2 linked regions of the Homo sapiens genome follow. The protein of the gene in region 2 binds, or shares a complex with, the protein of the main gene of each other region. Links are inferred from orthologs where the notes say so. Each region holds a gene or a part of one and is shown on either strand. Other genes may lie near its edges.

What was found.
Region 1: the proteins of KEAP1 (region 2) and NFE2L2 are in contact, whole or in part, in a crystal structure (PDB 3WN7), measured with the Mus musculus proteins. The link is inferred for Homo sapiens from one-to-one orthologs. Residues at the interface, in NP_001103775.1 of Mus musculus: Tyr334, Ser363, Gly364, Arg380, Asn382, Pro384, Asp385, Gly386, Asn387, Asn414, Arg415, Ser431, Gly433, Cys434, His436, Ile461, Phe478, Gly480, Arg483, Ser508, Gly509, Tyr525, Gln530, Ser555, Ala556, Tyr572, Phe577, Ser602, Gly603; in NP_035032.1 of Mus musculus: Leu19, Ile22, Leu23, Arg25, Gln26, Asp27, Ile28, Asp29, Leu30, Gly31, Val32, Val36, Phe37, Phe39.

What each region holds. Positions count from the first base shown.
Region 1 is NC_000002.12:177,229,991-177,233,739, reverse strand, and holds the end of NFE2L2 (nuclear factor erythroid 2-related factor 2), read left to right. Parts: intron 1-400; coding exon 401-490; intron 491-1,156; coding exon 1,157-1,348; intron 1,349-1,731; coding exon 1,732-2,955; 3' UTR 2,956-3,432; downstream 3,433-3,749.
Region 2 is NC_000019.10:10,501,895-10,505,643, forward strand, and holds the start of KEAP1 (kelch-like ECH-associated protein 1), read right to left. Parts: upstream 1,463-3,749; 5' UTR 1,347-1,462; intron 878-1,346; exon of another isoform or gene 803-877; intron 1-802. UniProt on the Homo sapiens protein: Substrate-specific adapter of a BCR (BTB-CUL3-RBX1) E3 ubiquitin ligase complex that regulates the response to oxidative stress by targeting NFE2L2/NRF2 for ubiquitination.

The sequences.
Region 1 (3,749 bases), on a different chromosome or scaffold from region 2:
GGATCAAGTAGCAGCAACAGAAGTAGTAGCAGGAGAACCAAGTAGCAGGGATTACTGGCGTTACTGTGTGTGGCAAGCACTGTTTTAAGAACATATACTGACTGATTTAATTAACACAACTATATTAATTAGTTACCATTATCCCTGTTTTATCTACGATGAGCAACTGAAGCTCACAAAGGTTAAATAATTTGCCCAGATCACTCAGAAAATTGGAGGAGCTAAGATCTGAACCCATGTGGTCTAGTTCAAATTGTGCATCAAAGTGATCTCTGAAATAAGATAAATATTTACTTAACTTGATTATAAATATTTTATGAACATCAATTATTGAATATTTAGCTTGGCAATGGAATATTTAACCATTTTTGTTTTCCTTTGTGTCATTCCCTTTTATCAGGTTGCCCACATTCCCAAATCAGATGCTTTGTACTTTGATGACTGCATGCAGCTTTTGGCGCAGACATTCCCGTTTGTAGATGACAATGAGGTGAGGTATAAAATAACCTGGTTAATAGAAAAACTCCATCATAACTATAAAATAACAATCTATTCTATGTAAGTCCCGTCAATGAATCTCCATTTAAAAGAATAAAAACATTTTTAGGAGGAAATTTTTTAACCAAGGAAATACTCTTGTCAAGGAAACCTTAGCCTATAAATAACTTTACAATTAAGAAAAAAAAAAACCCTTCACACAATACAAAACCAAAACCATTGACTATTGCATAGCCAGAAACATGGACAGCATAACCATGGAAACAAATAACCCATTTGCTGCAAGTATCTAAGAGGTTTGGTGAGTAAAGAGCCAGCTGGGCAATAAACGAAGACTTGTTCAGTTAACAATTTTAATAAATCTGTTTTATCTAGTACCACTGTGCTAGATATTATATAAACTAAATCCTAAAGATTGTACTTACGCATTTTAAAGTTTACTTTCAAATGCTTAAGCTGAAACAGACCAGCAAATTATAAATTTGAGTCAGTGGGGTAGGAAAAAAAGATTTGTTATTTACAAACGGGGTCATGACTGGTTAGTAAGTAGAGAGACACAGAACTGCAGCTGATTCCATTTTGTTTTGTAGTGGTGCCTTAGAGCTTACTCATCCCCTGTTGGTGGAAGACTCATAAATCAATGCCTTATCAATTTTAGGTTTCTTCGGCTACGTTTCAGTCACTTGTTCCTGATATTCCCGGTCACATCGAGAGCCCAGTCTTCATTGCTACTAATCAGGCTCAGTCACCTGAAACTTCTGTTGCTCAGGTAGCCCCTGTTGATTTAGACGGTATGCAACAGGACATTGAGCAAGTTTGGGAGGAGCTATTATCCATTCCTGAGTTACAGGTAACTAAAATAGAATGTAATACTGGAGATTTTTTTTATATTCAGTGCCTTTAGTCATTCTGATTATTTATATACCACCTATTTATAGGAAGGATTGGAGGGTGCTATTAACTTAGTCATGAGTACTGCCCATGCTAGTTAAATTGGTTGGACATCTTGAGGATAGAATGTTATAAACCTGACGTCTGATCTGGGAACTCTGAAAATAATACATAACGCTTAGGCGTAAATATGTATTGGAAATGAGAATTATCTCTGAATTATAGATAATAAATTATAGAGATAAGCCTGAAGATAATGTGGGTAGGGAGTTTATCTAAATTTATCACGTATTATCATGGATTAACTTTGATTTATATAGTATAAACTTCCTTCTCATGCAGTGTCTTAATATTGAAAATGACAAGCTGGTTGAGACTACCATGGTTCCAAGTCCAGAAGCCAAACTGACAGAAGTTGACAATTATCATTTTTACTCATCTATACCCTCAATGGAAAAAGAAGTAGGTAACTGTAGTCCACATTTTCTTAATGCTTTTGAGGATTCCTTCAGCAGCATCCTCTCCACAGAAGACCCCAACCAGTTGACAGTGAACTCATTAAATTCAGATGCCACAGTCAACACAGATTTTGGTGATGAATTTTATTCTGCTTTCATAGCTGAGCCCAGTATCAGCAACAGCATGCCCTCACCTGCTACTTTAAGCCATTCACTCTCTGAACTTCTAAATGGGCCCATTGATGTTTCTGATCTATCACTTTGCAAAGCTTTCAACCAAAACCACCCTGAAAGCACAGCAGAATTCAATGATTCTGACTCCGGCATTTCACTAAACACAAGTCCCAGTGTGGCATCACCAGAACACTCAGTGGAATCTTCCAGCTATGGAGACACACTACTTGGCCTCAGTGATTCTGAAGTGGAAGAGCTAGATAGTGCCCCTGGAAGTGTCAAACAGAATGGTCCTAAAACACCAGTACATTCTTCTGGGGATATGGTACAACCCTTGTCACCATCTCAGGGGCAGAGCACTCACGTGCATGATGCCCAATGTGAGAACACACCAGAGAAAGAATTGCCTGTAAGTCCTGGTCATCGGAAAACCCCATTCACAAAAGACAAACATTCAAGCCGCTTGGAGGCTCATCTCACAAGAGATGAACTTAGGGCAAAAGCTCTCCATATCCCATTCCCTGTAGAAAAAATCATTAACCTCCCTGTTGTTGACTTCAACGAAATGATGTCCAAAGAGCAGTTCAATGAAGCTCAACTTGCATTAATTCGGGATATACGTAGGAGGGGTAAGAATAAAGTGGCTGCTCAGAATTGCAGAAAAAGAAAACTGGAAAATATAGTAGAACTAGAGCAAGATTTAGATCATTTGAAAGATGAAAAAGAAAAATTGCTCAAAGAAAAAGGAGAAAATGACAAAAGCCTTCACCTACTGAAAAAACAACTCAGCACCTTATATCTCGAAGTTTTCAGCATGCTACGTGATGAAGATGGAAAACCTTATTCTCCTAGTGAATACTCCCTGCAGCAAACAAGAGATGGCAATGTTTTCCTTGTTCCCAAAAGTAAGAAGCCAGATGTTAAGAAAAACTAGATTTAGGAGGATTTGACCTTTTCTGAGCTAGTTTTTTTGTACTATTATACTAAAAGCTCCTACTGTGATGTGAAATGCTCATACTTTATAAGTAATTCTATGCAAAATCATAGCCAAAACTAGTATAGAAAATAATACGAAACTTTAAAAAGCATTGGAGTGTCAGTATGTTGAATCAGTAGTTTCACTTTAACTGTAAACAATTTCTTAGGACACCATTTGGGCTAGTTTCTGTGTAAGTGTAAATACTACAAAAACTTATTTATACTGTTCTTATGTCATTTGTTATATTCATAGATTTATATGATGATATGACATCTGGCTAAAAAGAAATTATTGCAAAACTAACCACTATGTACTTTTTTATAAATACTGTATGGACAAAAAATGGCATTTTTTATATTAAATTGTTTAGCTCTGGCAAAAAAAAAAAATTTTAAGAGCTGGTACTAATAAAGGATTATTATGACTGTTAAATTATTTGTTTGGGATTCCTTTGAGTTTATTCACACAGTATTTTCCATAAGATAATCATCCATTTAATTTAGATGTTTTGCATTTTCAGAATGTTTTATTTGAAAATATAAAAATAATTTTATACTACATTTCTAGTACCAGGGTTACAGAGAAATAAAGTATATCAAGAGGATACTTTGCCTCTTCAATAGCAGGTACATCTAAACCCAAGAAAATGTTACACACTGACATGAAAGCACTGATTCATTTATTTCCATCAGTAGACATACGCCCACTATACCCTAGGCAGAGTTTGAAGTAGAAAGGACAAAACCAAT
Region 2 (3,749 bases):
AGTGGATCTGCAAGTTCTCACTCCCCTCTTTCTGGGACTCAACTCAAAGTCTCCTCTTCCCTGTTTTATTGTCATCACTGCGCTTGTCAGGAACTGAAATGACCTCCTTTGCTTGTCTGTTGATCGACTGTCTCTCGTCCCCGGCCCCAGCGCCTCAAATGGCAGGGAGACCTATGTAGGTCGGCGTCGGGCCAACCCTCTCCTGTGCCTCTCGCCTGGGGCCTGGCACTGCGCAGGGGTCAATAAACGGGTGGTTGGCTAACTGCCCTGCCACCGTGCCTGCCAGAGCGGCCTCCTCCACCCTCCCTGGGTGCCACTCGGCCCCCACTCTGGTGCCAAGGCCCTGGGTTTGCCTCTTGGTCTTTGGCCAATCGGTCAACAATGCCCCTTGGGCACCGGGCACTTCCCCCACCCTACAAAGCGGCAAGTGGGCGACTGCGCATGCCCCTCCTGAGCCTCCACCAGGCCCAGTGAGGCGAGGAAGTGACCCCACCGCGGCCTCTCGGCTGCCAACCCCAGAACGCAGATCGAGCCCCTCAACGCCTCGGAGCCCCCGGGCCTCCTTCTGCGCAGCGCCTCCTGGTTCTCTCGCTCGGTTTCCGCCGCTCCCGGGCCACCCCAAGAGTTGCGCCGTCCAACAAAAATATCCACCCAGGTCGCGCCCTCCTGGCCCTCCGAGTCCTGGCGGGGAACTCGGAGGCGCCCTGGGCCGTGGCGCCCGTTTTCCTGGTCTCCGGGCACGGCCGCAGGGGCGCTCGCGGCCCGCGATGCCCGCAGCCCGGGCACATCCCGCCTCACTCACCCCGCCATGGCCGCGCTCCGGCTCCGCCTCCACCGCCCGAGCCCCGGCGCCTCCATCGCTGCGCGTGGGGGAGGCGCGGAGCGCGCGCAGGTCACCATGACTAAGCAGAGCCGGGCGCCCGCCGTGTCACAATAAAAGTCCCCGGGCCCTGGCCTCAGGCGGTAGGGACCGCTGAGGGGCCGCTCCCCACCCCCGCCCACGCCTGCTGTCGCCCAGCTGCGCGGCCACCACGGCGCCCAGCATGGCGGCGGGGCGGGGGCACGCGACCCTGAGCGCGCTTAGCCGCGTGGTCCGAGTCGCGGGGAGTCTGAACCCCGAGTTCCAGGCCTGCGCGCCCCGGCCCGCACCAGGGGTGGGGTGGACACCCCTCCCCGTCGCTGCTGCCCAAGCGCTCACCTCAGCCCCCAGGTCGCCTCCGTAGGGGGTCCCTCGGGGTGGGGATGGCCGGGGCGCGCAGGGGCTCCGGGCACAGTGATGCCACCCGCGCACTGCGCTTCCGGGAAGCCGGGGGACCGCGACCCAGTCCAGGAGATTCCTGCCTTACCTTGGCTGTAGGGGACCCGCGGGCGCCTCCGCCGTCGGGGGGCCTCGGCTCCAGGGCTGCGTGGCCTGCGGGGTCTTGGTTGTCGGTTGGGGAGCGGCCTCGGGACGCCCGAAAAGGAGGCGGGGAGAGGGCGGAAAGGGCGCGGCGGGAAAGGAGCGGCGATTCTCCCGCCCTTCCCGCAGGTGCCCGGCGCCCGTCGGCGAGGAGTGGGGCATCGGGCGGGGGCGCACAGCCAGGCCCCCCTTCTCACTGTCCCTTCCATCTCCCGATTTCGTTGCTGGATGTCTCCTCGCGGGGCTGCGCGCCACCATCTGCTATTCTCCTTTTAACAACGCACAGCGCCGGCCTCGTGGTCCGGCGGCCGCAGGATCTAGGGAAAATTATCTACCTCGCTAGGTTTTCTTTTCTTTTCTTTTCTTTCTTTCTTTCTTTTTTTTTTTCCTTTAGAGACAAGGTCTCGCTCTGATCTGCACGCCCAGGCTGGAGTGCAGTGGCGCAATCGCGGCTCACTGCAGCCTTGAGCTCCTGGCCTCAAGCGATCCTCCCACCTCAGCCTCCTGAGTAGCTGGGACCACAGACAGGCGCCACCACACCCGGCTAATTTTTAGTTTTTGTTTGTTTGTTTGTTTTTCTGTAGAGATGGGGTCTCGCAATGTTGCCCAGGCTGGTCTTGAACACCTGGGTTTAAGAGATCCTGACTCCATTGGCCTCCCAAAGTTCTGGGATTATAGGTGTGAGGCGCTGTGCCCAGGCCTCAGGTTTTCCTTGTCTTTTTTTTTTTTTTTTTTTTTTAATTGAGACAGAGTCTCTCACTGTCACCTGGGCTGGAGTGCAGTAGCTCGATCTTGGCTCACTGCAACCTCCGCCTCCCGGGTTCAAAAAATTCTGCCTCAGCCTCCCGAGTAGCTGGGATTACAGGCGCCCGCCATCATACCCAGCTAATTTTTTGTATTTTTAGTACAGATGGGGTTTCACCATGTTGGCCAGGATGGTCTCAAACCCCTGACCTCATGATCCGCCCGCCTCGGCCTCCCAAAGTGTTGGGATTACAGGCGTGAGCCACCGCGCCCGGCCTTCCTTGTCTTTATTTTTGATTTACTTCCTATCAAGAGGCGTGTGGCACCCGTCTTTGGGGGGTTCAAACCCTGGATCTGCCTCTTACCAGCTCAGTGCCCGTGGGCGCTTACTTAGTTCTCTATGGTTCAGTTTCCTCTCTATAAAAAGTAATAATATAATAGCACCTACCTACCAGATTATCATTAAGACTAAATGCGGGGCCGGGCGCGGTGACTCACACCTGTAATCCCAGCATTTTGGGAGGCCGAGGCAGGCGGATCACGAGGTCGGGAGATCGAGACCATCCTGGCTAACATGATAAAACCCCGTCTCTACTAAAAATACAAAAAATTAGCCGGGCGTGGTGGCGGGCGCCTGTAGTCCCAGGTACACAGGAGGCTGAGGCAGGAGAATGGCGTGAACCCGGGAGGCGGAGCGTGCAGTGAGCCAAGATCACCGCACTGCACTCCAGCCTGCGCCACAGAGCGAGGCTCTGACTCAAAAAAATAAATAAGTAAATAAAAAATAAAAATATTAAATGCGAATGCTGGCTCCCAAGAGACAGAAACCATTGCTATTTTTCATGACTGGGGATACTGATTTGTCATGCACACCGTTTATCATGTAACGTTAACTTTTAAATAAATGTATGTAAGTTTATTTTAAAGAATTCATCTAGGCTGGGTGCGGTGGCTCACATCTGTAATCCCAGCACTTTGGGAGCCGAGGTGGGTGGATCACGAGATCAGGAGTTCAAGACCAGCCTGGCCAACATGGTGAAACCCCCATCTCTACTAAAAATACAAAAATTAACCGGGCGTGGTGGCGGGCGCCTGTAATCCCCAGCTACTCGGGAGGCTGAGGCAGAGAATTGCTTGAACCCGGGAGGCAGAGGTTGCAGTGAGCAGAGATCGCGCCACCACACTCCAGCCTGTGCAACAGAGTGAGACTCTGTCTCAAAAAAAAAAAAAAAAAAAGAAAAAAAAAGAATTCATCTAAATTTCATCCAAATTATAATTATTTTTAAAAGATAGAGAGGCCAGGCGCAGTGGCTCATGCTTGTAATCCTAGCACTTTGGTAGGCCAAGACGGGTGGATCACCTGAGGTTAGGAGTTCGAGACCGGCCTGACCAATATGGTGAGACCGCCGTCTCTACTAAATACAAAAAATTAACCGGGTGTGGTGGTGGGTAAGTGAAGGTTGCAGTGAGCCGAAATCCTGCCATTGCACTCCAGCCTGAGCAACAGCGCGAGACTACGTCTCGAAAGGAAAAGAAAAAAAAAAAAGATAGATGGGATTTCGCCATGTAAGTGAATAATAAATGGAAACTCTAGGCCCCTGGAGCC